Regions from separate parts of the Homo sapiens genome. Here region 2 is linked to region 1. Evidence: fine-mapped expression QTL. A gene starts in region 1. The other region holds a variant in brackets. All regions are shown on one strand. Distances are between the middles of the regions.

The links.
Region 2: its variant is fine-mapped to the expression of PSMD9 in whole blood (TOPMed, PIP above 0.99).

The regions. Positions count from the first base shown.
Region 1 is chr12:121,882,734-121,898,657 of GRCh38, reverse strand. PSMD9 (proteasome 26S subunit, non-ATPase 9) reads right to left here and starts at 9,868. Exons shown (of 6, transcript NM_002813.7): 1 at 9,664-9,868; 2 at 3,817-3,919. The coding sequence starts at 9,801. It also overlaps a transcript of HPD not described here. RefSeq lists enhancers at 8,984-9,597, 9,565-9,964, 9,598-10,211.
Region 2 is chr12:121,833,425-121,849,348 of GRCh38, reverse strand. HPD (4-hydroxyphenylpyruvate dioxygenase) reads left to right here. Exons shown (of 14, transcript NM_002150.3): 9 at 273-350; 10 at 2,135-2,297; 11 at 2,416-2,487; 12 at 5,517-5,639; 13 at 9,301-9,417; 14 at 9,511-9,822. The coding sequence ends at 9,621. Among named protein-coding and RNA genes, the nearest start is that of TIALD, 15 kb to the left of the region's middle. RefSeq lists enhancers at 8,490-9,159, 9,831-10,501 and a silencer at 9,669-9,868. The variant C/T (reference allele first, on the strand shown) is at 4,739.

The DNA of each region.
Region 1 (15,924 bases):
GAAGCAGGAGAATTACTTGAACCCAGGAGGTGGAGGTTGCAGTGAGCCGAGATCGCACCACTGCCCTCCAGCCTGGCGACAAAGCAAGAATTCGTCTCAAAAAAAAAAAAAAAAAGTGCTGCATAAGCCTAGTAATCCTGGAGACATTCAGTCCAGGAGAGGGAGTCCACAGGGAGGTGGCCAAAGGGCACCCCTGCTACAGGGCTCTTGCCAATTGGCTGGGTTTGGGAGGAAGACCCAATGCTACAAAATCTTTGATTTTTCCAGAAAAGCTGAAAATTGGGATCTTTGAAGTGAAATTCTCTGATTTTTCAGTACAGATAGCTAATTCAAAATGTTGTGAACCACCATGGCAATCTGCAGGCCACGCCAGCACAGCAGCTGGTATTTTGATACCTTGTGCCTGTCAGTGGGATTGCGGTACTACCTGACCTGCCTCCTCTGCCACTGTCACTTTGGAGCAAAGGCAAGACCCTCAGTCATGAAGGGATTCAAGTTCTCAACCCACAGGAGCAGATGTGGGAAAAGAACCCAGATCTGAACAAGTGGAGACATGCACTTGGGAGGCAGACTTACATAATACATGGTCACTTTCACTAGAAAAGCCCTCCCCCAGTGAGGTCCACAGCATCCCTAGACTCTGCAATGCCTGGCACAGGGAAGTGCTCAATACACAGCTGTTGGGGAATGGAACGAACGACTATTTACAACATATTACAATTCTAATCAAAATGTTGAAAGGGTTTTTTTCAGTACAAAATGTTTCTGCAGTGTATTTCAAAAAACAAATTTGCAATTATAACAAACGTACCATATTAACATAAGCTGTTAGCTGGGCGCGGTGGCTCATGCCTGTAATCCCAGCACTTTGCGAGGCCGAGGCGGGCAGATCACCTGAGGTCAGGAGTTCGAGACCAGCCTGGCCAACATGGTGAAATCCCGTCTCTACTAAAAAAATACTACTAAAAAATTAGGCCAGGCATGGTGGCTCACGCCTGTCGAGGCCGAGGCGGGCGGATCACCTGAGGTCAGGAGTTGGAGACCAGCCTGGCCAACATGGTGAAATCCCGTCTCTACTAAAAAAATACTACTAAAAAATTAGGCCAGGCATGGTGGCTCACGCCTGTCGAGGCCGAGGCGGGCGGATCACCTGAGGTCAGGAGTTCAAGACCAGCCTGGCCAACATGGTGAAACCCTGTCTCTACTAAAATATAAAAATTAGCCGGGCACGATGGCGGATGCCTGTAATCTCAGCTACTTGGGAGGCTGAGATGGGAGAATCACTTGAACCCGGGAGATGGTGAGTGCAGTGAGTGAGCCGAGATCATGCCACTGCACTCCAGCCTAGGTGGCTAAGCAAGATTCCATCTCAAAAAAAAAAAAAAAATTAGTCCGGTGTGATGGTGGGCACCTGTAATCCCAGCTACTTGGGAAGCTAAGGCTGGAGAATCACTTGAACCTGTGTGTATACACATGTGTATATATTTGGGAGGCCTCAGCCTCCCAAAGTGCTGGGATTACAGGCATGAGCCTCTGTGCCCAGCTTATGCAGCATTTTTCCTTCTAGAGGATTTCAGAGAAAAGTGAAATCTTGGTTACACCCAGCCTGAGTCATTCACTCATATGTGTATTTTGCATATATACACGCATGTGTATATTTTACATACACATGTATGTGTGTATATATTTACATGTATGTGTAGATATATACACATGTATGTGTATATATGCTGTTAACAACACGGGAGATTACATACAGAAGCCAAAGGACCTATGCATTATTTTCCAATTTTTTTTTCTTTTCTTTTTTTTTTTTTTTTTGAGACAGAGTTTCACTCTTGTTGCCCAGGCTGGAGTGCAATGGCACAATCTCGGCTCACGGCAACCTCCGCCTCCTGGGTTCAAGTGATTCTCCTGCCTCAACCTCCTGAGTAGCTGGGATTACAGGTTCGTGCCACCATGCCCAGCTAATTTTGTATTTTTAGTAGAGACAGGGTTTCTCCATGTTGGTCAGGCTGGTCTCGAACTCCCGACCTCAGGTGATCTGCCCACCTCGGCCTCCCAGTGTGCTGGGATTACAGGCGTGAGCCACCGCACCCAGCCATTATTTTCCAATTTTTATGTAAATCTATAACTGTTCTTTAAAAAGGGCTGTTTTGAGAATAGATTTTCTTTCTTTTTTTTGAGACAGAGTTTTGTTTGCTCTGTCGCCCAGGGTGGAGTGCAGTGGTGTAATCTCGGCTCTTTGCAACCTCTGCCTCCTGGGTTCAAGTGATTCTCCTGTCTCAGCCTCCCAAGTAGCTGGAATTACAGGCATGTGCCACCACATCCAGTTAATTTTTCTATTTTTAGTACAGACAGGATTTTGCCATGTTGGTCAGGCTAGACTCAAACTCCTGACCTCAGGTGATCTGCCCGCCTTGGCTTCCCAAAGTGCTGGGATTACAGGCATGAGCCACCGCACCCGGCCGAGAACAGATTTTTCAAAAAAAGACCAATAAGGAATTGCTCAAACAGATTTTTTTTTTTTTTTTGAGACGGTCTCTTGCTCTGTCACTCGGGAGGTGGAAGTTGCAGTGAGCCAAGATCGTGCCACTGCACTCCAACCTGGGTGACAGAGCGAGACTCCGTCTCAAAAAATAAATAAATAAATAAGATGTGATGCAGATGGAATCAAGATTCAAACAGATTAAAGAGGAGTTAGTAAGTGAAAAATGTGGAGGATAAATGCTAATAGGACTCTGTGGTGGAGACGGTTGCCTACCTATGGCTGAGTGGATAATGGCCCCCAACACATCCACATCCTAGCCCCTAGAAGCTGGGAATATGCCACCTTACATGGCAAAAGAGGCTCTGCAGATGTGATTAAGGACCTTAAGATTCGGACATGATCCTGGATTATCCAGGTGGGCCTGGTGTCATCACAGAGGTCTTTATAGGTGAAAGAGGGAGGCAGGAGAGTGAGAGAAAGAGATGTTATGACAGAATCAGAGGGAGGGAAATGCGACTGCTGGCTGTGTAGATGGACGAAGCCATGAGCCAAGGACGGTGGGCAGCCTTTGGAAACCAGAAAAGACCAGGAACAGGTTCTCCCCTAGATCCTCCAGAAGGAGCCAGCCCTGCCAACACCTTGATTTTAGTCCAGTGAGACCCATCTGGACTTCTTATCTCCAGCTACTAAGTCTGTGGTCATTTGTTATGGCAGAAACAGAAACAAATATACTATCCAATCTGTACTCTCTGCTAGCTCTTTAATTAAAAACAAATCACGTCATTTGTTATGGCAGAAACAGAAAACAAATATACTATCCAATCTGTACTCTCTGCTAGCTCTTTAATTAAAAACAATCAGCACCTTGGAAGGCCAAGGCAGGAGGACCACTTGAGTCCAGGAGTTCAAGACTCACCTGGGCCACTTAGTGAGACTCGTCTCTACTAAAAAAAATTAGCCAGGCACAGCGACACATGCCTATAGTCCCAGCTACTTGGGAGGCTGAGGCAGAAGGAGCACTTGGAGCCTGGGGGGTTGAGACTGCAGTGAGTCATGTTAGCACCACTGCACTCCAGCCTGGAAGACAGAGCAAGACCCTGACTCAAAAAAAAAAGAGAGAGAGAGAGAGAGAGAAAATGAAACCAGAAATATAGAACCTTAGAGTCTAGCCCATTCCCTTGGTTCTCAGTCCTTGGATGGGGACAAGACAATCCCATCAAGGCAGAAGAGAAGGCAGTAGATAATACAGATAGTTGGTTTTATTTGTATGCCTTTAACACCTTCCCACCACAAGGTGGGGAAAGTCTTCTAAGAGGGCCACTCACATATGATGTTGTGCCTGGCGGTGCGGACTTGGTACAGGTCCACGTCTGACCGGGGGTAGCCCTCACAGTCCACCAGCGGCTCGTTCATCCCAATGCCTTTTTGCTGGAGGAAAGAAACGTGGTTAAAAGGTGCTCATGGGTGTAATGTCCCCAGGATGTCTTTCCCCAGACCCTTCTCCTCTGAAGTCATAATAAAGGTGACAGTAATGAAAACTGCCACATACTGATCACTTACACCAGGGGCTCTACTCATGCCCTCACAACTACCCTGGGGTGGGCACTGTGTTTTTCATTTTTTATTTTTAACGACGCAAGTAATGCATGAATCCATTCTTTTTTGAAGTTAAAACAGTGCCGATAAAACCAAAGACTCCTTTGAGCATCATCCCCAAGGCCAGCCTCTTCCTCCACTCCTTCACACCCTCCTTCCCACAGGTGGCTGACACCTGGCTGCTGGCCCTGGAAGCTAGAGGGGAGTGAAAAGCCCAGACAGCACCCAGCTGTGGCAGGGCTTTGATTCTTCTGAAAATAAAAAGATCTGAAGAAGGAAACTGATAGCACCAGCTGCCTCCGGGGAGAAGAACTGGGTGGCTAGGTGACAGGGCAGGGAGAGAGACAGTCCATTTTATACCCCTCTGTAGGTTTTGAATTTTGCCTATGGGAATGTATTCTTTATTCAAAACAACACTTTTTTTTTTTTTAACATGAGTCAGAGGAGAGTACACAAAAGCAGTGAAACCAGTCACATGGTTCAGGGGAGGGGCTTTGCAATTGGTTAGACTTTAATTTGAATCTCAACTCTGCCATGTACAAGCTGGGCATCCTTAGCTGAGACCTTCTCCTCTCTAAGCCTCAGCTTCCTCAATTATAAAATGGGAATAGGAGCACTCGCCTCCCTCCCTACCTGCTGCAAGAACTAACGAGCTGACCTGCAGAGTACTTAGCACATGCCACGCGCATACACAGCATAGTGGGTTGAAGAGCGGCCCCCAAAAACAGATAACCACGAGCTAACCCCCAGAACCTGTAAATATGACTTTATTTGAAAAAGAGTCTTTGTAGATGTAATTATGTTAAGGATCTCGAGATAAGCTCATCTGGTGGCTGGTGTCCTCATAAAAGAAAGGCAGAGGTAGGTGTGGGACAGACACAGGAGGAAGGCCACATGAAGATGCAGGCAGAGGTTCAAGTGACACAGCTGTAGGCCAAGGACCGCCAGCAGTCACCAGAGGCCAGGAGAAAGGCTTGGGAGCTTCTCTCTCAGAGCCTGCAGAAGGAGCCAACCCTGCTGACACCTTGATTTCAGACTTCTGGCCTCCAGAGCTGGGACAAAGTAAATTCCTGTTTTAAGTCACCAACTCTGTGGTGTTAAGGTGGCCTCAGAAAACGACTACGCGCAGAAGTCATAAATAGTGGCTGTAAGGATTAGTCAGTCCAGGGACAAGCTGCCAGTGTACACAGGCACTGAGAAGAGGGATTCCATTCATTTTGCTCCCTTTCTCTCTGGAAGCCTCCGGGTTACACCCAAACCTACTGTCCACTGCGCAGGGAGATAGTTCTCCACACTCCCCTAACACAGGACTCGCCGTGACACTGCAGAAATGCGCCAGGGGCTAAAAACCTGTATCTGCTCCTGCCTTCCCACAGTGGTTAAGGGTTGACCAGCCTTTGAGAATCAATATCACATTGGATAATGCTTCTCAAAGGATGGGATCCATAACACTAGCAGCTCACACACACGGCATTAAATAACCCTGAATCAAAAATACATATTCCTCTCCCAATTCTCTACAATCCTGCAATTGTCAAGGCAAAAGTGTCCATTTGGTGCTGGTCTCTGCAACACCCCAGTTACTTGCTATCTCTAGTACCCTCTGTTTTTATAACAGTTTTATTGAGATATAATTCAGATACCATATAACTGACCCATGTAAAGTGTAAAAGGTAATGGCTTTTGTGTTTGTATTGGTTTGAGACAAGATCTTCTGTTGCCCAGGATCGGGTGCAGTGGTGTGTTCATAGCTCACTGCCGCCTTAAACTCCTGGGTTCAAGCGATCTGTCTCAGCCTCCTAAGTAGCTGGGACCACAGGCACATGTCATCACACCTGGCTAATTTTTAATTTTTAATTTTTTTTTTTTAAAGACAGAGTCTCGCTCTGTTGCCCAGGCTAGAGTACAGTGGCGAGATCTTGGCTCACTGCAAGCTCCGCCTCCTGGGTTCAGGCCCTTCTCCTGCCTCAGCCTCCCGAGTAGCTGGGACTACAGGCGTCTGCCACCACACCCGGCTAATTTTTTTGTATTTTTAGTAGAGACGGGGTTTCACCGTGTTAACCAGGATGGTCTCGATCTCCTGACCTCGTGATCTGCCAGCCTCGGCCTCCCAAAGTGCTGGGATTACAGGCATGAGCCACCATGCCCGGCCTTTAATTTTGAATTTTTTGTAAAGATAGGCTCTTACTGTGTTGCCCAGGCTAGTCTCAAACCCCTGGCCTCAAGTGATCCTCCTGCCTCAGACTCCCAAAGTCCTGGGATTACAGGCATGAGCCACCACGCCTGGCCATTGACCATTTGTATTGACCATATTTTCTTTGGAGAAATGTTTATTCAGATCCTTTCCCTGTCTTCTAATTGGCTGTCTTTTTATTATTGAGTTGTAAGAGCTCTTATTATAGTCTAGATACTATCCTCTTATCAGAGAAATGATATGCAAATATTTTCTCCCATTCTGGAGCTTATCTTTTCATTTTACTATGCCCTTTGAAACACAGTTTTAAAGTTGAAGTCCAACTTATCATTTTTTCTTTTGTAGCTTGTGTTTTTGGTGCCATATCTAAAAAGGCTTTGCCTAATCCAAGGTCATGAAGATTTACTCCTATGCTTTATTATACGAGATTTATAGTTTTAGCTGTCCACTTCTTTTTTTTTTTTTTTTTTTTTTTGAGATGGAATCTCTGTCACCCAGGCTGGAGTGTCGTGGTGCAGTCTTGGTTCACTGCAACCTCCGCCTCCCAGGTTCAAGTGATTCTCTTGCATCAGCCTCCCGGGTAGCTGGGATTATAGATGTGTACCACCACACCTGGCTAATTTTTGTATTTTTCGTTGAGACGGGGTTTCACCATGTTGGCCAGGCTGGTCTCGGACTCCTGACCTCAAGCGATCCACACACCTCGGCCTTCCAAAGTGCTGGGATTACAGACGTGAGCCACCATGCCCAGTCTTTTTTTTTTTTTTCTTTTTTCTTGAGACGGAGTCTCGCTCTGTCACCCAGGCTGAAGTGCAGTGGCGCAATCTTGGCTCACTGCAAGCTCCACATCCCGGGTTCAGGCCATTCTCCTGCCTCAGCCTCCAGAGTAGCTGGGACTACAGGCGCTGGCCACCACGTCCAGCTAATTTTTTGTATTTTTAGTAGAGACGGGGTTTCACTGTGTTAGCCAGGATGGTCTCGATCTCCTGACCTCGTGATCCGCCCGCCTCGGCCTCCCAAAGTGCTGGGATTAGAGGCATGAGCCACCGCACCCGGCCTTTTTTTTTTTTTTTTTTTTAAAGAGACAGCATCTCACTCTGTCACCCACAAGAGAGTGCAGTGGTGCAATTATAGCTCCCTGCAGCCTCAACATTCAGGGTTCAAGCAATCCTCCTGCCTCAGCCTCCCAAGTAGCTAGGACTACAGGCATGCACCACCACGCCCAACTAATTTTTAAAAAAATTTTTTGTAGGCCTGGCGCGGTGGCTCAAGCCTGTAATCCCAGCACTTTGGGAGGCCGAGGCGGGCGGATCACGAGGTCAGGAGATCGAGACCATCCTGGCCTCAGGTGATCCACCCACCTTGGCCTCCCAAAGTGCTGGGATTACAGGCGTGAGCCACCAGGCCCGGCCCAAACCCACTTTTTAAAAACAAATATAGAGCACGGTTTCAGGCTGAAAGCTTTCAGCAAGCAACAGCAGCTAGCCAGAAGCAACCAACATGCCGTATCAACATGCAAAGCATCTGACCTTATATTTAAGAGAAGAGATTATCATTTTCCATATGCAGCGGAGTTTTGAAATTTCCTTTTAAAATACATTTATGGGCAAGGCACTGTGGCTCATGCCTGTAACCCCAACACTTTGGGAGGCAGAGGCAGGAGGACTGCTTGAGCCCAGGAGTTTCAGACCAGTCTGAGCAAGCAACATAGTGAGACCCCATAGCTACAAAAAATACAAAAATTAGCTGGGCGTGGTGGCACGTACCTGCAGTCTCAGCTACTTGGGAGGCTGAGGTGGGAGGATTGCTTGACACCAGGAGATTGAGGCTGCAGTGAACCAAGATGGTGCCACTGAACTCCAGCCTGGGCAACAGAGCGAGACCCTGTCTCAATAATAATAATAACAATAATAATACATTTATATAAGATTAAAAGTAGATCTATTTAAATAAAAATATCAAAGGAATAACACAAGTGGTATATGCATATAGTATACTGCATGTGGTAGAAAGTAAACTAAAGTTTGAGAAATTGCTGGTAATTTGCTTGAAAGCACAGGTTCTGAATGTAACAGACCTGAAGTCTGAATCCCACTTTGAGCATATAGTCAGCACCCAGTAAAATGGTTCTCTGGCCCTCCGTATGAAACTTCATCTTATGGCCGGACGCGGTGGCTCACGCCTGTAATCCCAGCACTTGGGGAGGCCAAGGTGGGCGGATCACCTGAGGTCAGGAATCCAACACCGGCCTGACCAACATGGTGAAACCCTGCTTTTACTTAAAATAAAAAATTAGCCTGGCGTACTGGCGCTCGCCTGTAATCCCTACTACTCGGGAGGCTGAGGCAGGAGAATCACTTGAACCCAGGAGGCAGAGGCTGCAGTGAGCCGAGATTGAGCCACTGCACTCCAGCCTGGGTGACAAAGCAAGACTCCGTCTCAGACAAAAAAAAAAGAAACTTCATCTTACATCACCTAAAATGCATTCCATCCCACCCTACTTGGGCATAATTAATTGCATCTTCCTCTGCAAACTGATCTGTGATTTTACACTAGATGGCATAAGAAAACCTGCATCAGCTTTTGAGCCAGACCCACCACTGCCACTTCCGAACTACATGACCTTAGATAGGCGTTTGCCCCACTCTGGGCCTCAGTTTCCTCCTTATGCAATAAGGATGATGAGCCTTATTTGTAACTCAAAGTTCGGTCCTTAGACCACTAGCATCAGCATTGCTGGGAGTTTGCTACAAATGCAGAATCTGCTCCCTTGCCTCAAACAAAATCTGCATTTTAATAAGATCCCCAGGTAATTCATATACACACTGAAGTTTAAGAATTCACGATACAATCAGCAAATGCCGGGTGCAGTAGCTCACGCCTGTAATCCCAGCACTTTGAAAGGCCGAGGTGGAAGGATCGCTTGAGGCCATGAGTTCGATACCAACCTGGGCAACACAGTGAGACTCTGTCTTTACAAAAAGTACAAAATTAAGATAAGGCAGTCAGCGAGGCACATGACAGCTGTTTAATCACCAAGTAACACCTGTTTCCCCCTCCCTAAAATGGAAAGAGTAACAGCATCCACCTCAAAGGGTTGTTGCAAAGATTAAATTAACTCAACAATGCACAGCACTTAAACCAGCGCCTAGCACACAGCAGGGCTCCACAAACTCTTGCTGGATATCAATATGGCTAACTCTTCAGTTGCTAAAGTTCTTTGCCTGCCTTCTTGTGCCGACAGAGGCCGCACTTGCGGCGCCTTGGGCCTCCCAGGGAGATCCGTTGCGGAGCGCCCAAACTGAGGCCGCCCTGGCATCCCAGTACCCCAGGGACTCCGGGCCGGGTTAGGCGACTTGGGGCGCCCCGAACCCACACTCACGCTTTCCAGCACGTCATAGTTGGCCTTGATCTGCGCTTCTATCTCCTCCTTGCGCCGCATCAGCTCCTGGACGTCGCTGACAGTCACGACGCCGGCCTGCGAGGAGCCTCCGCTCTGCCTCGCTTCCTCGTCGGACATCGTGAACCCCGGGCCGCGACTCCAGAGACCCGGCTCCCGGGCTAGGGACGACGCCCCAGTCGACCGTAACTACGGCTCCGCCCATGCGCCAAAACACCACAGCCGTCCGCGAACGCGAGAACAGTCAAGGGGCGGGGCTTGGGATGGGGCTTAGGGCGGAGCTGGGTCACCGGAAGCCGCGCCCTGCCGGAACACGTGCGCCTGTGGTGACCCGGCAGGAGTAGCGTCGGAAGCAATGGATCCCCACGCAATTGCACACCAACGCTAGGGGATGATCTCGCCCCAGCTGACTCATTTTCTCATTCGTGCAGCAGACATTTATTGAGCGCCTACTGTATGGATGGATACTGTACGCCAGAGAACCGCTGCGTGGCGCTCCAATTCAGTTCTTCACATCCACACAGCCCTGGAGGATTTACAAAATACATTAAGGTTCCTTATCCCTCACTTTACAGATCCGATATGCCTGAGTACACACCCCGTATCTTGCCACTTAACGGCAATCTGTGTGACCCTAGGTCACTACTTGGCTTCTCTGGGCCTCAGTTTCCTCATCTGTAAAATGGGGCAGTAATTGATAGCAATCTATCTCATAGAGCTGTCCTTCTGCTAACAAATATTCATGGAATGATTCCTATGAGCCATATACTGTTGAAGGTGCTGGATGTTCCTGTTAAGGCCTCTAAAAATCGTAGTGATAATAATAACGGTAACAGTGTTTATTTATTGATACTTATAATGTGCCAGACGCTGTTCTAAATGCCTTACATATATTAATTCAACAACCTCATGAAGCTAGATTATTACATCCCAATTTGACAGCTGAGAAAACCGTCTCAATAACCAATTTACCCAACTAGCAAAATGTGAGGCCAAAATTCCAACCCAGCTTACCTAAACAATCAACTTTGATATCTGACCATGTGCCTCTAATATTTTGTCTTGAAAAGGGCTCAGCGGTCATCTGTGTAGTATTCAAACATGTTTGCCCTGAATCTAATCATTGGAAAACAGACATATCCAAAAGAAGGGACATACTTCAAAACAACTGGCCTGAAAACTTCAAAAAAAGTCAATGTTGTGAAATACACATGGGGAATAAGGGGTGGGGGACAGAGAAAGGAGGCGGATATGCAATTGCCTAGATTTAAGAACACTAAAGATGTGCATCAACTAAATGCAATGGGCCAGGTGTGGTGGCTCATGCCTATAATCCCAGCACTTTGGGAGGCTGTGGCAAGCAGATCATTTGAGGTCAGGAGTTTGAGACTAGCCTCGCCAACATGGTGAAACCCTGTCTCTACCAAAAATATAAAATATTAGCCGGGTGTGGTGGCACACACCTGTAATCCCAGGTACTCAGGAGGCTGAGGTCTCGAACCCCTGGCCTCAAGTGATCCAGCCCAGCTCGGCCTTTCAAAGTGCTGGGATTACAGGAGTGAGCTACCGCACCCCTCAAAAATAAACTAACATTTCTAACATTATCGAGAGAGAGAGAGAGAGAAATACAGGTGCAGTGGCTCATACCTGTAGTCCCATTATGCTGGGAGATCAAGGCAGGAGGATCCCTTAGGTCCAGGAGTTTGAGACTAGCCTGGGCAACATAGCAAGACCTCCATCTCTACAAAAAAAAAAAAATAATAATTAATTAGCAGAGGACCAGGTGTGGTGATTCACACCTGTAATCCCAGCACTTTGGGAGGCTGAGGTGGGTGGATCACTTGAGGTCAGGAGTTCAAGACCAGCCTGGCCAACATGGTGAAACACCGTCTCTACTAAAAATACAAAAGTTACCAAGGCACAGTGCCACACACTTGTAATCCCAGCTACCTGGGAGGCTGACGCAGGAGAATCGCTTGAACCGGGGAGGCAGAGGTTGCAATGAGCTGAGATCATGTCACTGCACTCCAGCCTGAGTGACCGAGTGAGACTCTGTCTCAAATAAATAAATAAATAATAAAGTTAAAAAGGGAGGAAGAGAGAAATAATGACTAAATGCAATACATGATCCTTACTTGAATTATTTAATGAGAAACAGCAGCTTTACAAGACTTATTGGGCCAACTGGTGAAATCTAAATATGAACTTTATATTAAATTATAGTATATCAGTGTTAAATTTCCTCAGTCAGATAATGGTGTTGCAATTATATGAGAGAATCACTTTTATCTTTATTGGAACGAGATAAATGCTCAATTATTTAGATGTGTAGTGTCATGATTTCTGCTACTAACTTGCAAGTGGTCCGAAGAAAGTGATACAAGGGGAGAAAGAGGCAAAATGTAACAATTAGCAAATCCACGTGAAGAGTATAAGCATGTTCAAGAAAACTGTTTTGTAAGCTGCTTATGGCTATAATCCTAGCATTTTGGGAGGCCAGGGCAGGTGGCTCACTGCCTGAGCGGCAGAGCAAGACTCCGTCTCAAAAAAAAAAAAAAAAAAAAAACTAGGCCAGGCGCGGTGGCTCACGCCTGTAATCCCAGCACTTTGGGAGGCCAAGCCAGGTGGATCATGAGGTTAGGAGATCGAGACCATCCTGGCTAACACGGTGAAACTCCATCTCTACTAAAAATACAAAAATTTAGCCGGGCATGGTGGCACGTGCCTGTAGTCCCAGCTACTCAGGAGGCTGAGGCAGGAGAATGGCATGAACCTGGGAGACAGAGCTTGCAGTGAGCAGAGATCGTGCCACTGCACTCCAGCCCGGGCGAGAGAGTGAGACCCCATCTCAAAAAAAAAAAAAAAAACTAAATGCAATATGTGGCCAGGTGCGGTGGCTTACGCCTGTTATCTCAGCATTTTGGGAGACCGAGGCGGCTGGATCACCTGAGGTCAGGAGTTCAAGACCAGCCTGGCCAACATGCTGAAACCTTGTCCCTACTAAAAATACAAAAATTATCCGGGCGTGGTGGCTCTGTTGCCCAGGCTGGAGTGCAGTGGCGAGATCTCGGCTCACTGCAACGTCCACCTCCCTGGTTCAAGCAATTCCCCTGCCTCCCGAGTAGCTGGGATTACAGGCGTATGCCACCATGCTCGGCTAATTTTTTTGTATTTTTAGTAGAGACAAGGTTTCACCATGTTGGCCAGACTGGTCTAGAACTCCTGACCTCAGGCAATCCACCCGCCTTAGCCTCCCAATGTGCTGGGATTACAGGCGTGAGCCACCGCACCTGGCCAAATTTCCTGATTTTTAAAAAAATTGTAATATCCTCCCACCCTTGATATCTGAAAATTTCCTGATTTTGATACTTTCACTGTGGTTTTGTAAGACAGTGCCCTTAGAAAAAGTACCCTGTAGTATTTAGGGTTAAGAGAGGCAATTTACTTTCAAATGGTTCAGAAAAGAATACAGATATAGGCCGGGCGTGGTGGCTCACACCTGTAATCCCAGCACTTTGGGACACCGAGGTGGGCGGATCACAAGGTCAAGAGATGGAGACCATCCTGGCCAACATGGTGAAACTCTGTCTCCACCAAAAATACAAAAATTAGCTGGACGTGGTGACTCATGCCTGTAGTCACAGCTACTCGGGAGATTGAGTCAGGAGGATCACTTGAATCCGGGAGGCAGAGGTTACAATGAGCCGAGATGGTGCTACTGCACTACAGCCTGGCGACAGAGCAAGACTTCATCTAAAAAAAAAAAAAATACAGATATATATGTAAGGCCGGGCATGGTGGCTCACGCCTGTAATCTCAGCACTTTGGGAGGCTGAGGGGGGTGGATCACTTGAGGTCAGGAGTTTGAGATTAGCCTGACCAACATGGTGAAACCCCGTCTCTACTAAAAATACAAAAATCAGCTGGGCGTGGTGGCAGGCACCTGTAATCCCAGCTACTCGGGAGACTGAGGCAGGAGAGAATCGCTTGAACCTGGGAGGTGGAGGTTGTAGTGAGCCGAGATCGTGCCACTGCACTCCAGCCTGGACCATATAGTGAGACTCCGTCTCAAGAAAAAGAAAGAGATATATATTTGTAGACAAGAGAGAGATAAAGTAAATACGGCAAAATGTTAATAATTGGTGACTCTGTAAATTATTTGTAAATGTAAATTATTTACATTTACAAAATGTAAATAATTGGTGAAACATATAAATGTTCTTTATAATATTTTTGGAACTTTTCTGTGAGTTTAAAACCACTTCAAGATAAAATTTTAAAACAAACTTTAAACAGAAAGAAGAAAAAAAGAGAAAAGGTAGAAAAATAAACTAACATTTCTAACATTGTCAAAAGAGAGAGAGAGAGAGATACAGGTGCAGTGGCTCATGTCTGTAGTCCTATATCTCTGGGAGATCAAGGCAGGAGGATCCCTTGAGTCCAGGAGTTTAAGACCAGCCTGGGCAATATAGCAAGACTTACGTCTCTACAAAAAAAAAAATTAATTAGCGGAGGACCAGGCATGATGGTTCACGCCCGTAATCCCGGCATTTTGGGTGGCCGAAGTGGGTGGATCACATAAGGTCAGGGGTTTGAGACCAGCCTGGCCAACATAGTAAAACCCCATCTCTAGTAAAAATACAAAAATCAGCCGGGCACAGCGGCACACACCTGTAATCCCAGCTACTTGGGAGGCTGAGGCCGGGGAATTGCTTGAGGCAGAGGTTGCAGTGAGCGGCGATCATGCCACTGCACTCCAGCCTGGGCGACAGAGCGAAACTCCGTCTCAAAAAAAAAAAAAAAAAGAGAGGAAAAGAGAAACGATGACTAAATGCAATACATGATCCTTACTTGAATTATTAATGAGAAACAGCGGCTTTAAAAGACTTACTGGGCCAATTGATGAAATCTAAATATGAACTTTATATTAAATTATAGTATATCAGTGTTAAGTTTCCTCAGTCAGATAATGATGTTGCAATTATGTGAAAGAAACTCTTTTTATGGTAAGGAGATAAATGCTCAAATATTTAGATGTGTAGCGTCATGGTTTCAGCTACTAACTTGCAAGTGGTTCAAAGAAAATGATACAAGGGGAGAAAGAGGCAAAATGTAACAATTAGCAAATCCACATGAAGAGTATATGCATGTTCAAGGAAACTTTTGTAGGCAGCTCATGGCTATAATCCTAGCACTTTGGGAGGCAGAAGTGGGAGGATCCCCTGATCCTAGGAATTTGAGACCAGCCTGAGCAACGTGGCAAGACCCAGTTTCTATCAAAAAAAAAAAAAAAAGAAAGAAGGAAAAGGAAAAGTTGGTTGTGTGGGGGAACTATCTTGCAGTTCTTCTGAGGTTTGAAATTTTTCCAAATAAAAAGGGTGAGGAGAAGATTCTTACCCATGCGGTCTGAAAAGAGAGCTGTTGTTAGGTTACTACATTATGAGCTTGTCAATATTGCTGTCATTATAATAAACCTCTATCCTGTGACTGCCTTCATAGCTCCCAAATCCACCCATCTCCTCCACCTCTACTCCTACCCCGCCACCTCTTCCTCCTGATTGGGCAGTCTTTGAACTGTCTCAGGTTGCGCACTTTAACCCAGTCTCCAAAGCAGCCAGAACAACCTTCCCAAGAGTGACATTGGCACGCTACTGCTTAATGGCTTCAGTGCCCTTCTCTTGGCCTTTAAGACTCCTGATCTCTGCTTGCCTTTAGACCACCTCCCATCCCTGTACCCCACCACACACACACACACACACACACACACACACACACACACACACACACACACACACAACTTATGCTCCAGCCATGCTGAACTTCTAACAGTTTCTGGCACGTTTTTTGCTCAGTCTCTCTTAGCACTGGGTCTTAGCACCTGCTCTTCCCACCCTGGAACACCATCTCAGGCCAGGCTGACTTGAACCTCTCCTTCAAGATCCAGCTCAAGGCTGGGTGAGGTGGCTCACACCTGTAATCCCAGCACTTTGGGAGGCCGAGGCGGGTGGCTCACTTGAGGTCGGTAGTTCAAGACCAGCCTGGCCAACATGGTGAAACCCCATCTCTACTAAAATAGATTAGTTGGGTTTGGTGGCAGGTGCCTGTAATCCCAGCTACTCAGGAGGCTGAGGCAGGAGAAGCTGGGAGGCAGAGGTTGCAGTGAGCTGAGATTACACCACTGTACTCCAGCCTGGGCAACAGAGCAAGACTCCCTCTCAAAAACAAAAAGAAAAAGATCCCTCT
Region 2 (15,924 bases), 49 kb after region 1:
AAATGCTACATAAGTGTGAGTCCAGGCGCAGTGGCTCATACCTATAATCCCAGCACTTTGGGAGTCTGAAGCAGGAGGTTCACTTGAGCCCCAGAGTTTTAGACCAACCTGGGCAAAAAAAAGAGTCTCTCTTTTTGTAGAGACTCCATCTCTACAAAAAAATAGAACTCCAAAAACAGAAGTGTGAGCTATTATTATTATTGAGGGGTCATGGAGAAGGGAGCAATCTGGGGGGTAGCCACCTTCTCACCCCCATCTTCTTCCCTTCCCAGGCCCAAATGCAGTCTGGAGATGATCGACCACATTGTGGGAAACCAGCCTGATCAGGAGATGGTGTCCGCCTCCGAATGGTGAGACCTTGGCCCTCTCCCTCTGCGTGAAGATGACGGGTCCTCACGGTGGACTGGCCCACTCCCTGGTCCTTGCACTAACATGGAAAATACGACTGGGTGCAGTGGCTCACACCCGTAATCCCAGCATTCTGGGAAGCCGAGGTGGGAGGATCACTTGAGGTCAGGGGTTCAACACCAGCCTGACCAATATGGAGAAACCCCGTCTCTACTAAAAATATAAAAACTCAGTGGGCGAGGTGTTGGGCCCCTGTAATTCCAGTTACTCAAGAGGCTGAGGCAGGAGAATCGCTTGAACCCGGGAGGTGGAGGTTGGGCGACAGAGTGAGACTCCAGCCTGGGAAACAGAGCAAGATTTTGTCTCCAATAAACAAATAAAATAAAATAGACCGGGCGCACTTGCTCACGCCTGTAATCCCAGCACTTTGGGAGGCGGAGGCGGGTGGATCACCTGAGGTCAGGAGTTCAAGACCAGCCTGACCAACATGGCGAACCCCGGTCTCTACTAAAAATACAAAAATTAGCTGGGTGTGGCAGTGTGTGCCTGTAATCCCAGCTACTTGGGAAGCTGAGACAGGAGAATCGCTTGAACCAGGAAGGCGGAGGTTGCAGTGAGCTGAGATTACGCCACTGCACTCCAGCCTGGGTGAGAGAGAGAGACTTTGTCTCAAAATAATAATAATAATAATAAAGTAAAATAAAATAAAAGTGGAAAATACAGCACAAGATGTTGGGAGTTAGCCTGAGGCCACTGATGCATTTATTCACTGTAAAACTGTCAACATGGAGACCAGTGGACTTGAGGCCCAAAGCGACCCACAGGCCCTCCTTCTGAGGAACCCTGGGGACATCACAGTCCAGGGAGGCTTGGAGGAAGGTTGCCACCACCCAGAGAGCCCCCTGTCCAAATTCCAAGCAAGGGCCTTTTTCTCAAAGCACTTTACTTCCATCTGTGGGAGCCTTGCCGTCCTGTATGTATTTCGTTCCAAGACACTTCCACCTGAAGGAAAAATGTCATCATAAAGGTACAAATCTAGGCTGGGCGTGGTGGCCCATATTTGGAATCTTAGTACTTTGGAGGCCCAGGCAGGTGGATGGCTTGAACCCAGGAGTTCAAGACAGCCTGGGCAACATAGTGAGACCCCATCTCTACAAAAAATACGGCCGGGCACAGTGGCTCATGCCTGTAATCCCAGCACTTTGGGAGGCCGAGGCGGGTGGATCACCTGAGGTTAGGAGTTCGAGACCAGCCTGACCAACACAGTGAAACACTGTCTCTACTAAATACAAAAAATTAGTTGGGCATGGTGGTGCATGCCTGTAATCCCAGCTACTTGGGAGGCTGAGGCAGGAGAATCGCCTGGACCCAGGAAGTGGCAGCTGCAGCGAGCCGAGATTGCGTCACTGCATTCCAGCCTGGGCGAAAAGAGCGAAACTCCGTCTCAAAAAACAAAAAATAAAAATACCCCAAAATTATCCAGGTGTGGTAGCACATGCCTGTAGTCCCAGCTACTTGGGAAGCTGAGGTGGGAGGAGCAATTGAGCCTGGAGATTGAGGCTGCAGTGAGCCAAGACTGCACCACTGCACTCCAGCCTGGGCAAGAGTGAGACTCTGTCTCGAGCAACAACAACAACAAAAAGATCTAAATCTCTGATGGGTATGATGGCAGTGGCATCTCCTTTCTGGAGCCTGCTCAGGGACAGATTCTGGAAGGTGGAAATGGGTGATGGAGGCCGTCCCTGGAGGCGCTCAGAGCATATGTGTTCCACCGCCCACCCTACAGGTACCTGAAAAACCTGCAGTTCCACCGCTTCTGGTCCGTGGATGACACGCAGGTGCACACGGAATATAGCTCTCTGCGATCCATTGTGGTGGCCAACTATGAAGAGTCCATCAAGATGCCCATCAATGAGCCAGCGCCTGGCAAGAAGAAGTCCCAGATCCAGGTGAGGCCGCCCCTGGCTGGGGGAGAGGGGAGCAGGGAAGAGGTCTGGGGGCTCTTGTAGGGTCAGGGATGTGGGTGATGGGGCAAATGACAGTGGTCTCCTTGTTTCCCTCCCCCAGGAATATGTGGACTATAACGGGGGCGCTGGGGTCCAGCACATCGCTCTCAAGACCGAAGACATCATCACAGCGGTTAGAACCCCCTTCCCTGTCCGAATTCCTCTCTCATTCAGAGCCAGGGACGATCTCTGCAAAATTGAGAGGGCGGGTGGCGGCAGTCCTGGGCCCGTTTCTCTGGGCTGGGAGACTGACAGGACTCCCTCACTGCTTCTTGCAACTCATGGGCAGGCACAGCCACACCCACCCCCAGAGAGTTCAGTCTCCACAGAACCCCTGGGCTTTGGAGGTAGCAGGCGCCAGGGTATCAGGAAGCCTGGGTGATGGTCCCGGTTCTGCCAGTGGCTTGCTCTGTGTCTCTGGGAGATTCAGTGCTGTCTCTGGACTTTAGTTGCCTTACCTTAAAAATCAGGAAATTAGGGCCGGGCACAGTGGCTCACACCTGTAATCCCAGCACTTTGGGTGGCCAAGGCAGGGGGATCACCTGAGGTCAGGAGTTTGAGACCAGCCTGGCCAACATGGTGAAACCCCATCTCTACTAAAAATACAAAAATTATCTGGGCGTGGTTGCGGGCACCTGTAATCCCAGCTTCTCAGGAGGCTGAGGCAAGAGAAGTGCTTGAACTCAGGAGGTAGAGGTTGCAGTGAGCCAAGGTCGCACCACTGTACCACAGCCTGGGCGACAAGAGTGAAATTCTGCTTTAGAAAAAAATAATAGTAATTAATAAAGGAAATTAGGACTGGGCACAGTGGCTTATGCCTGTAGTCCCAACTACACGGGAGGCCAAAGCAGAAGGATTGTTTGAGCCCATAAGTTAGAGATCAGCCTGGAAAACAGTGGGACCCTGTCTCTGCAAAAAGTAAACAAAATTAACCAGGCTTGGTGGTTCATGCCTGTAGTCCTAGCTACTTGGGAGGCTGAAGCAGGAGGATCCATTTAGCCAAGGATTTCAAGGCTGCAGTTAGCTATGATTGAGCCACTTTTCTCCAGCCTAGGTGACAGAGAGTGAGGCCCTATCTCCCCGCAACCTCAAAAAAGAAATTTTTTTTAAAATGAGGAAATTAAGGTTGGGCATGGTGGCTCATGCCTATAACAGTTTCTGCCCTTGTGGAGCAATAAACAAAATAAGTAAAATATAAATGCTAGATGGTAGAGAGCACCCAGGAAGAAAGTAAAGCAGGGAATTGGGACAGCAAGGGTGAATGGCATTGCACATTTAAATTGGGGGGTCAGACACTGTGGGAGGCCGAGGCAGGAGGACTGCTTGAGCTCAGAAGTTCAAGACCAACGTGGGCAACATAGTAAGACCTCATCCTTTTTTTTTTTTTTTTTTTTGAGACGGAGCCTGGCTCTGTCGCCCAGGCTGGAGTGCAGTGGCGCGATCTCGGCTCACTGCAAGCTCCGCCTCCTGGGTTCACGCCATTCTCCTGCCTCAGCCTCCCAAGTAGCTGGGACTACAGGCACCCGCCACCACGCCCAGCTAATGTTTTTTTTTGTATTTTTAGTAGAGACGGGGTTTCACTGTGTTAGCCAGGATGGTCTCGATCTCCTGATCTTGTGATCTGCCCACCTTGGCCTCCCAAAGTGCTGGGATTACAGGTGTGAGCCACTGCGCCCGGCCATAAGACCTCATCTTTACAAAAAAATCAAAAAATTAGCCAGGTGTGGTGGTGCACACCTGTGGTTCTAGTTACCCAGAAGTCTGAAGTAGGAGGATCAGCTGAGCCTGGGGAGGTTGAGGCTGCAGTGAGCTAAGATCATGCCACTGCACTGCAGCCTGGGTGACAGAACAAAGACCCTGTCTCTCAAATATATATATGTGTGTGTATATATATATATATCCTTCTTTTTTGAGATGCAGTCTTGCTCTGTCTTCTAGGCTGGAGTGCAGTGGTGCGATTTTGGCTCACTGCAACCTCCACCTCCTGGGTTCAAGCGATTCTCCTGCCTCAGCCTCCCAAGTAGCTGGGATTACAGGTGCATGACACCACGCCTGGATAACTTTTTTTGTATTTTATTTTTATTTTTTATTTTTTATTTATTTTATTTTATTTTGAGACAGAGTCTCGCTCTGTTGCTCAGGCTAGATTGCAGTGACGCGATCTCGGCTCACTGCAAGCTCTGCCTCCCGGGTTTACGCCATTCTCCTGCCTCAGCCTCCCAAGTAGCTGGGACTACACGCTCCCACCACCACGCCCAGCTAATTTTTTTTTTGTATTTTTAGTAGGGGTTTCACTGTGTTAGCCAGGATGGTCTTGATCTCCTAACCTCGTGATCACCCATCTTGGCCTCCCAATGTGCTGGGATTACAGGCGTGAGCCACCT[C/T]GCCCGGCCTTTTTTTTGTATTTTTAATAGAGACAGGATTTTGCCATGTTGGTCAGGCTGGTCTCCAACTCCTGACTTCAAGTGATCTGCCCGCCTCAGCCTCCAAAAGTGCTGGGCTTACAGGCGTGAGCCACCACACTCGGCCTAATAGATCCTTAATCGTTTCATGCCTCAGTTTCCCCAGCTATGAAATGGGAGAATAGTCCTTCAGCTGCCTCAAAAGATTGCTGCATGGACATAATGAGGGAATACGTAGAAAGTGCTCAGGCCGGGCTCAGTGGCTCACGCCTGTAATCCCAGCACTTTGGGAGGCCGAGGTAGGTGGATCGCCTGAGGTCAGGAGTTCGAGACCAACCTGGCTAACATGGTGAAACCCCATCTCTACTAAAAATACATAGCTGAGTGTGATGGTAGTCACCTGTAATCCCAGCTACTCAGGAGGCTGAAGCAGGAGAATCGCTTGAACCGGGAGGCAGAGGTTGCAGTGAGCTAAGATCGTGCCACTGCACTCCAGCCTGGGCAACAGAGACTCCATCTCAAAAAAAAAGAAAAAAAGAAAGTGCTCAAGGCAGGCACATGGTGAGTGTTCTATAAATCTAGCAGTTGTTGTTCTAACGGGGCCCATGACAGAGAAGAAAGGGGAAGAGGCCACACAGCATCCTGGCAGTTGAGGGGAGCTAGGATAGGGACCCTGTATCCTGATGACCCAGCACCTCCACCTGGCTAGGGGAGTTGAACTTGGAGGCCGAAGGCTGACCTCAGCTTTGCTCTGAAACAGATTCGCCACTTGAGAGAGAGAGGCCTGGAGTTCTTATCTGTTCCCTCCACGTACTACAAACAACTGCGGGAGAAGCTGAAGACGGCCAAGATCAAGGTGAAGGAGAACATTGATGCCCTGGAGGTGAGGCCCAGGCAGGATCCGCAGCCTTGTGGGGGGAGTATGAGCTCTGCATTGCATCTTTTCAGAAATATTGTCTCAGCCCGGAGGGGAGCCCAGACCAAGTCCCTGCTGGCAAAGGACATTTATTCTAGGGTCTATGTGGGAGGAGGAGACAGATGACAAACAAATAAACAATAAAAGCACGGTCAGAGATAGTCAGTGCAGGAAGTTCAAACAGGCAGCCTGGGGCTGCTTTACAGAGACTGGTCAGGGAGGGCCTCTCTGAGGAGGTGACATCTGAGTGAAGTCTAGATCATGAGCGGGAGCTGGCCATGTGAACAGCGGGAAGAAAGGCATTCCTGGCAGAGGGATCAGCAAGGGCCGAGGTAGGAGCATGCCCTGAGCGTCTGAGGAACAGAAAGAATAGGCTAGAGTGGATGGGAGGCTGTTTTTGAGCGATGACCTAGGTCAGACAGGTAAGCAAGAGCCAGTTCCTCTTGTGAGCTATTATTCAGGAATCTGGATTTTGTTCTTTTGTGACCAGAAACCACTGGAGGGTTTTTTGGTTTGGTTTTAGCAGTGTTATTGACATATGTCACATAACATGTCATTTTTTTAAGGTGTACAATTCTATGATTTCTAGCTATTTGCTATGTTGTGCAACTATCATCAAAATCCATTTTAGGACTGGGTGTGGTGGTTCATGCTTGTAATCTCAGTACTTTGGGAGGCCGAGGCGGGCGGATCATGAGGTCAGGAGTTCGAGACCAGCCTGACCAACATGGTGAAACCCTGCCTCTACTAAAAATACAAAAATTAGCCAGGCGTGGTGACACATGCCTGTAATCCCAGCTACTCAGGAGGCTGAGGCAGGAGAATCACTTGAACCCGGGAGGCGGAGGTTGCAGTGAGCCGAGATTGCGCTACTACATTCCAGCCTGGGCGACACAGTGAGACTCTGTCTCAAAAAAAAAAAAAAAAAAAAAAAAGATCCATTTTAGGACTAGGTATGGTGGTTCATGCCTGTAATCCCAGCACTTTGGGAGGCCAAGGCAGGTGGATCACTTGAGGTCAGGAGTTTGAGACCAGCCTGGTCAATATGGCGAAACCCCCATCTCTACAAAAAGAAAAAAAAAAATTAGCTGTGCGTGGTGATCTGTGTCTGTGGTCCCAGCTACTGGGGAGGCTGAAGTGGGAGAATCACTTCAACCCAGGAGGTAGAGGCTACAGTGAGCCATCATCAGGCCACTGCACTCCAGCCTGGGTGATACCCTGTCTAAAAGAAAAACAAAAACAGTTAGGCCAGACACAGTGGCTCACACCTATAATCCCAGCATTTTGGGAGGTTGAAGTGAGAGGATTGCTTGAGGCCAGGAGTTTAAGACCAGCCTGAGAAACACAGGGCGACCCTGTATCTACAAAAAAAACAGTTTTAAAAAATTAGCTGGGCATGGTGGTTCGTGCCTGTAGTCCCAGCTACTCAGGAGGCTGAGGTGAGAGGATCACTTGAGGCCAGGAGGTCAAAGCTGCAGTGAGCCATGATCAGGCTACTGCATTCCAGCCTGGGCAAAAAATCAATTTTAGAACATTTTTGTCACCCCAAAAAGAAACCTTGAGCCTCTTAGCCAGCACCTCCCAACCCCCTCTGTTCCCTTCCCCCCTCCCACCCCAGCCCTAGGCACCATTAATCTACCTTCAGTCTCTATAGATTTGCCTATTCTGGACATTTCATCAAAAGGAATCACAAAGTCCAGGCACGGTGGCTCATGCCTGTAATCCCAGCACTTTGGGAGGCTGAGGTGGGCGGATCATGAGGTCAGGAGTTCAAGACCAGCCTGGCCAACATGGTGAAACCCTGTCTCTACTAAAAATACAAAAATTAGCTGGGTGTGATAGCAGATGCCTGTAATCCCAGCTACTGGGGAGCCTGAGGCCGGAGAATTGCTTGAACCCAGGGAAGGGGAGGTTGCAGTGAGCCGAGATCGCGCCATTGCACTCCAGCCTGGGCGACAGAGTGAAACTCCATCTCGGAAAAAAAAAAAAAGGAATCACAAAATAGGCCTATTGTGAGCAGCTTCTTTCCCATAGCATGTGCTCAAGGTTCATCTGCGTGGGGTGTGTGTCAGTGCTTCGTTCCTTTTTGTGGCTGAAAAATATCCCATTGTATAGATAGACACACATTGTTTATCTATTCCTCGTTGATAGATATTTGGGTTGTTTCCACTTTTGGGGTGTTATACGTAATGCTACTGTGAACATCTATGTACAAGGCTCTGTGTGGACGTGTTTTCAATGCACTTTGGAATATATCTAGGAGTAGCTAGGTCACATGGTAATTCCATGTTCCCTTTTGTTTGTTTAGAGATGGAGTCTTGCTTTGTTTCCCAGGCTGGGGTGCAGTGGTGCGATCTTGGCCCATTGCAACCTCCAGCCTCCTGGGTTCAAGCAATTCTCCTGCCTCAGCCTCCCCAGTAGCTGGGATTATAGGCGCCCGCCACCACGCCCAGCTAATTTTTTTTTTTTTTTTTTTGAGACAGAGTCTTGCTCTGTTGCCCAGGCTGGAGAGCAGTGGCCGATCTTGGCTCACTGCAACCTCCACTTCCCGGGTTCAAGCGATTCTCCTGCCTCTGCCTCCTGAGTAGCTGGGATAACAGGCGTGTGCCACCATGCCCAGCCAATTTATTTTTATTTTTATTTTTAGTAGAGATGGGGTTTCACCATGTTGGCCAGGCTGGTCTCGAACTCCTGACCTCGGGTGATTCACTCACCTCAGCCTCCCAGAGTGCTGGGATTACAGGCGTGAGCCACCTTGCCCAGCCTAATTTTTGTATTTTTTTTTGTAGTGACTGGGTTTCCCCATGTTGGCCAGGCTGGTCTCGAACTGAGCTCAGGTGATCCACCTGCCTCGGCCTCCCAAAGTGAGCCACCATGCCTGGCCACCCCCTTTTTTTTTTTTAATCCGTATTTTAAGGAAGCAACACTATATGTTTAACTTTTTGAGAAGCTGCCAGACTGTTTTCCAAAGTGGTTGCACCATTTTACAGTCCCACCAGCAGTACATGAGGGTTCCGATTTCCACTGGAGGATTTTAAACAGGGGAATGACATGATCCGACTTTTAAAAGATCCCGCAGCAGGTCATGGTGGCTCACGCCTGTAATCCCAACACTTTGGGAGGTCGAGGTGGGTGGATCACCTGAGGTCAGGAGTTCGAGACCAGCCTGACCAATATCGTGAAACCCCGTCTTACTAAAAATACAAAAATTAGCCGGGCATGGTAGCCTGCGCCTGTAGTCCCAGCTACTCGGGAGGCTGAGACAGGAGAATCGCTTGAACCCGGAAGGCGGAGGTTTCAGTGAGCCAAGATTGCGCCACCGCACTCCAGCCTGGGTAACAGCGCAAGGCTCCGTCTCAAAAAAGAAAAAGAAAGTGTCCTGATAATGTCTGCGGGGAGGATGGATTGTAAGGATACAAGATTAGAAGCGGGCAGCAGTCTTGAATGGTGCCTTAGGAACTGTAGTAGGGGGATAGTAATAGGACAGTTTGGGGATATATTTGGAGGTGGCTGAACTGCCAGAAAAAGAGGTCATTTCCAGACTTTTGGGGTGCAGGAGCCCCTGTGGACTTTCCAAGGATCTCACCGTGCCAGCCTCCCCTAGCAGAGCCCCCTGTCTCCCGCCTAGGAGCTGAAAATCCTGGTGGACTACGACGAGAAAGGCTACCTCCTGCAGATCTTCACCAAACCGGTGCAGGACCGGCCCACGCTCTTCCTGGAAGTCATCCAGCGCCACAACCACCAGGTACTGCTTGTCCCCGGCAGGCCCGAGGGGACAGGCAGCTAGCACACTCGGTTTTCTGGGTCCTTGGCTCATCTCCTCTCTTTCCCGCCACAGGGTTTTGGAGCCGGCAACTTCAACTCACTGTTCAAGGCTTTCGAGGAGGAGCAGAACCTGCGGGGTAACCTCACCAACATGGAGACCAATGGGGTGGTGCCCGGCATGTAAGCCCCGCCCACCCCACGGAGGCCACAGCCACACAGCCACGCCCCCTGATTCTGGAACTCGCCCAACTTCCCTACTGGCTGCTCCCCTTGGGTCCCGCCCACCAGCGGACTCGGCCCCCAAGGCTCCGCCCACACTGACCACGCCCCTCGGCGGGGCCGCCCTCTGCTCCAGCCCTCCCGATTAAAGCGTGCCCCGGTCCAATACTGTGTCTGTGTTTGTGTTGCGCATAAGGCAGTAGTGCCTTATGGCAGCCAGGGGGAGGCCAGGGCGGCCGCCAGCGCCGCGGGACCGAGGAGCTGCGGGTGCCAGCGCTTTGCCAGCGGGACCACGCGGAGAGGGGAATTCTGGAACCAGGGAAGGAAGGGGACTTGCTCTGGAGGGAAAGACGGATGACACTGCTTTTGTAGAGAGATAAACGCGATTCAGACAATAAAGCAAGCGATGAGCCGGGCGTGGTGGCTCACACCTGTAATTTCAGCGCTTTGGGAGGCAGAGGTGGGAGGATCGCTTGAGGCCAGGAGTTCGAGCCCAGCCCGGTAACATAGCAAGACCCCGACCCCCCTGCGTCTACACAAATAACAAATAAAAATTAGCCTGGCGTAGTGGCGCACACCTGTGGTCCCAGCTACTCAGGAGGCTGAGGTGGGAGGATCGATTGATGGACAGAGGTCTAAGCTGCAGCGAGCCCTGATCCTGACACTGCACTCCAGCCTGGGCAAGAGTGAGACCCTGTCTCAAAAAAAAAAAAGGCAGTTGATGAGAATATGTGGAAGCGAAGATCGCAGGGGAGCTAATTTTGATAACGGAAGACCTCTCCGAGAAGGTGACATTTGGGAGCCAGCCATGGGACCATGCTCGGGAAAAGGATTCCAGGAAGAGCGAACGGAGAAAGGCCCTGAGGTGGGGTCAGAGTTTGGCAGCATCTTGTCTGCCGGCTTGATGATCTCTTTTTGTTGTTGTTGAGACGGAGTTTCGCTCTGTCCCCCAGGCTGGAGTGCAGTGGTGCGATCTCGGCTCACTGCAAGCTCCGCCTCCCGGGTTCACGCCATTCTCCTGCCTCAGCCTCCCGAGTAGCTGGGACTACAGGCGCCCGCCACCACGCCCGGCTAATTTTTTGTATTTTTAGCAGAGACGGAGTTTCACCTTGTTAGCCAGGATGGTCTCGGCCTCCCAAAGTGCTGGGATTACAGGCGTGAGCCACCGCGCCCGGCCGATGATCTCTAAAGATGAGCTGTCTTCAGTTTTGCTACCCAGAGCCCAAACCTCTGAACACAGGAGAGGGGAGAGTGTTAGACAAGGGACTCTAGGGGCAGCATCCCTGCTCATCAACTGTAGGATATGGTCCCTTGGTTCCTGGTCTCAGAGATAAAGCAGGTAGGAGGGGCCTGGTATCCCAGTCCCTGCCCTCAGCAGGGCAGTGCCCATGACCACCCACGCAGCTGCACTGCCCCAGCCTTGCCCGCAGTGAGGACTTCTTTTGGAAAGGGGCTTGTTCATACTCATAGAAGAGTGAGTGATCCTTGCAAAAGAATGAGGCAGCTGGGTCCTAAAACCCTAGGAAGGAGATTCTTTCTTCAAAACCAGGTAAGAGTTGGTGGTGGGCAAATTTGGCCTCTTTTTTTTTTCTTTTTCTCTCTTTTTTTTTTTTTTTTAGACAGAGTCTCACTCCATTGCTCAGGCTGGAGTGCAGTGGTGTGCTCTTGGCTTACTGCAACCTCCACCTTCTGAGCTCAGGTGATCCTCCTACCTCAGCCTCCCAAGTAGCTGGGACTATAGGCATGTGCCACCACGCCCAGCTAATTTTGTTTTTATTTTTCATGGAGATGGGATCTCACTATGTTGGCCAGTCTCGAATTCCTGGTCTCAGGTGATCCGCCCACCTCAGCCTTCCAAAGTGCTGGAATTATAGGAATGAGCCACTGTCTCTGGCCTCTTTCTGCTTCTAATGCTTGAGAACCCTCCGTGAGGATAAGTCAACTCAGAGCTAGGAGGCAGCAGAGCTCAATAGAAGAAAAAAATACTCTGAGTTGGTATAATGGTGGGAATTGGGGATTTTTTTCAGATTATAGAAGAAATCAGAGCTTCTGGGATCACGAACTTCAGAAATAAAGAGATCAGAGAGAACCCAAAGGATTCCGTGCAAAAAAAATACTCCCCCTCTATTCTCCTGTGACTTAATGTGAAGAAGGGAAATTGTATAACCCAGAAGGATGCAAACTAGTGGCTTACAGACCAAATGTGGCTCATAGACCTACTTCGTTTTGCCTGCATGGTTTCAAACAAATTTGAGTCAACATTTTAGAAAGTTGGGCACATATGGCCAGGTGCGGTAGCTCATGCCTGTAATCCCAGCACTTTGGGAGGCTGAGGCAGGTGGATCACTTGAGGTCAGGAGTTAGAGACCAGCCTGCCCAACAGGGTGAAACCTCGCCTCTACTAAAAATACAAAAATTAGCCGGGAATGGAGGAGGGTGCCTGTAATCCCAGCTACTCGGGAGGCTGAGGCAGGAGAATCCTTTGAACCTGGGAAGTGGAGCTTGCAGTGAGCCGAGATCACGCCTCTGCACTCTAGCCTGGGTGGCAGAGTGAGACTCCATCTCAAAAATAAATATTGGGAGGTCAAGGTGGGTGGATCACCTGAGGTCGGGAGTTCAAGACCAGCCTGGCCAACATGGTGAAACCCCATCTCTATTAAAAATACAAAATTAGCTGGGCCTGGTGGTGCGCACCTGTAATCCCAGCTACTCGGGAGGCTGAGGCAGGAGAATCACTCGAACCCAGGAGGCAGAGGTTGCAGTGAGATCGCACCACTGCACTCCAGCCTGGGCAAAAAGAGCGAAACTCCATCTCATAAATACATAAATAAATAAATAAAGCATGCAGAGCAGACACCCACTAGCTGAGAACATACTAGAGAGCCAGGCTGCCTGAGTTCACCTCTCAGATAGCCACGTGGTAGCTGTGTGACCTATGGCAAGCTACTTGACCTCTCAGTGCTTCAGTTTCCTATGTTAAGTGGGAATTATAATAATACCCTCCTCCTAGCCCTGTTGCTAGTATCAAAGACGTTTAAAACAGAGGCTGGCACAGTCAATGCTATATGAATAGTCTTATTTTGGGGGGAGGGGCTCTTGCCCACAAGGGAACCCAAGTCTGTCTGGGACCTCCCTCTCTCTGTCTGAGGTCTCTGTCACCAAGGCTGGAGAGCAGTGGCATGATCACAGTTCACTGCAGCCTTGATCTCCCCAGTTTCAGCGATCCTCCTACCTCAGCCTCCCTAATAGCTGGGACCATAGGCATATGCCACCACGCCTGGCTAATTTTTGTATTTTTAGTAGAGACAGGGTTTCTCCATGTTTCCCAGGCTGGCCTCAAACTCCTGGCCTCAAGTGATCCTTTCTCCTGCCTCAGCCTCCTGAGAAGCTGGAGAGGGGCTCCCATTTTGGCCCCCACAATACAATAGAGGCAATGAAGAAAGGAGTTATCTCTTGGGACTGAGGAGCAGAGGAAGAGGTGGATGGATTTGAGGAATAGGGAAGAAGCATCAGATTTGGTAGGTAAGGGAGGGAAAGAGAAGGTTTAAATCCAGGATCCCTGGCCTTTGAGCTTAGGTGGTCAGTGGCAGGCAGCGGTGGGTGGAGGCAGAGAACAGAAGTGTCATTGACCAAAGTAGAAAATATGACAGGAGAGCAAGTTCAAGAGAGAAGATGAAGACAGGCGCAGTGGCTCGTACCTATAATCCTGGCACTTTGGGAGGCCGAGGCCAGAGGATTGCTTGAGCCCAGGAGTTCAAGACCAGCTTGGGAAACATAGTGAGACCCTATTTCTATAAAAATTTAAAAATTGGCCGGATACAGGTGGCTCACACCTGTAATCCCAGCACTTTGAAAGGCTGAGGCGGGAAGATTACTTGAGGTTAGGCATTTGAGACCAGCCTGGCCAACATGGTGAAACCCCGTCTCTACTAAAAATACAAACATTAGCCGGGCATGATGGCACATGCCTGTAATCCCAGCTACTCAGGAGGCTGAGGCAGGAGAATATCCTGAACCCAGGAGGCGGAGGTTGCAGTAACCGAGATTGCGCCACTGCACTCCAGCCTGGGCGACAGAGTGAGACTCTGTCTCAATAAAATAAATAAAATAAAAAATAGAGATAGGGTTTCGTCTCTTCTAATAATAAAAAAACTAGCTGGGTATGGTGGTGCGCAGCTATAGTCCCAGCTACTCAGGAGGCTGAGGCATGAGAATCCCTTGAACCTGGGAACCTGGGAGGCAGAGGTTGCAGTGAGCCGAGACCATACCATTGCACTCCAGCCTGGGCAACAGAGAGAGACTGCCTCAAAAAAAAAAAAAAAGAAAGAAAAAAAGGCCGGGCACGGTGGCTCATGTCTAGAATCCCAGCACTTTGGGAGGCCAAGGCGGGCGGATCACTTGAGGTCAGGAGTTGGAGACCAGCCTGGCCAGCATGGTGAAACTCCATCTCTACTAAAAATACAAAAAACTTAGCCGGGCATGGTGGCACATGCCCGTAGTCCCAGCTACCCGGGAGGCTGAGGTGGGAGAATGGCTTGAACCCAGAAGGCAGAAGTTGCAGTGAGCCAAGATTGCACCACTGCACTCAAGCCTGGGTGACAGAGCAAGACTCTGTCTCAACAACAACAACAACAAAAAAAAAAAAAAAGAAAAAAAAAGAAAAAAGAAAGAAAGAAAGAAAGAAAGAAAGAAAGAAAGAAAGAAAAGAAAGAAAGAAAAAGCCCTGGCGCGGTGGCTTACACCTATAATCCCAGCACTTTGGGAGGCCGAGGAGGGCACATCCCCTGAGGTCAGGAGTTCGAGACCAGCATGCTTAACATGGAGAAATCCCATCTCTACTAAAAATACAAAATTAGCTGGGCTTGGTGGCACATGCCTGTAATCCTAGTAATCCCTGTAATCCCTACTCAGGAAGCTGAGGCAGGAGAATTGCTTGAACTCGGCAGGTGGAGGTTGCAGTGAGCCGAGATTGTACCATTGCACTCTAGCCTGGGCAACAAGAGCAAAACTCTGTCTCAAGAAAAAAAAAAAGAAAAGAAATTTTTAAAATTAGCTGGTATGGTAAAGTGTGCCTATGGCCCTGATCAGCTTAGGAGGTTGAAGTGGGGGGATCATTGAGCTCAGCAGATCGAGGCTGCAGTGAGCTATGATCATGCCACTGCACTCCAGCCTGGGTGACAGAACTAGACCTTGTCTCTAAAATAAATAATAAAGGTAAAATTGTATATTCCTTCAGCTACACCCCCTTCTCTTAGCTTTATTCCTCCTTACTATTGCACTTACTTTTCACATTTGTCTGGCTCGCCCTCAAGAACAGTATGTTTCCTTCATTCCTATCCCCAGAGCCTAGAAGAGTACCTGGCACATACAAGGTGCTCAATAAATATTGGTTGATTGAATTAATGGCCAGACACTTCCTTCTCTTTCCTGGCTCAGCCCGGACCTCAGCCCTCTATTCCCATGAATCCACTTACGGGAGTGTCCACCTGTCTGGATGCACAATTCCTAAAAGCAGCCCACTGTGAACGGACAATTTACTCTCCCTTCGTTTCGTTGATACCAGAAATGAGGCTGCGAAGAACACTCTTCTTCATATTGTTGCCCACTGTATCTGTCAGGCTCAATTCCTCACAGTGGAACAACGGAGCCAAGACTTTTGTGTGCATTTGATCATTTTATTTTGAGACGAGGTCTCACTCTGTCGCCCAGGCTGGAGTGCAGTGGCATGATCTCGGCTCCCTGCAACCTCCACCTTCTGGGTTCAAGCGATTCTCCCACCTCAGCCTCCCAAGTATCTGGGATTACAGGCGTGCACCACCACACTCGGCTAATTTTTTTGTATTTTTAATAGAGATGGGGTTTTACCATGTTGGCTAGGCTAGCTCGAACTCCTGACCTCAGGTGATCTGCCCTCCTAGGCCTCCCAAAGTGCTGGGATCACAGGCGTGAGCCACCGTGCCGGCCGTGTGCATTTTAAATAATGATTACTAATAGGTATTTTTCCTCCTAAAGGTTGCAGTGATTTTTGGCTTCCCCTAATGACACACGAGAGTACCCCAGCCTCCTGCTCCCTCAAATTGGGTTTCCTCCACCTTTTAATATTTGCCAACCTGACAGGGGGAAACGGCATCCTGGGATAATTCACATTTCTCCAGTAGGAAGTGACGTACAGCGTCTTTTCAGGCATATTGCTTTTTGCTAAGGTTTTACGTCTTCTTGGAGACATTTACCGTGGACGCCAACTATAAGCCCTTTATCACCCGTCTAC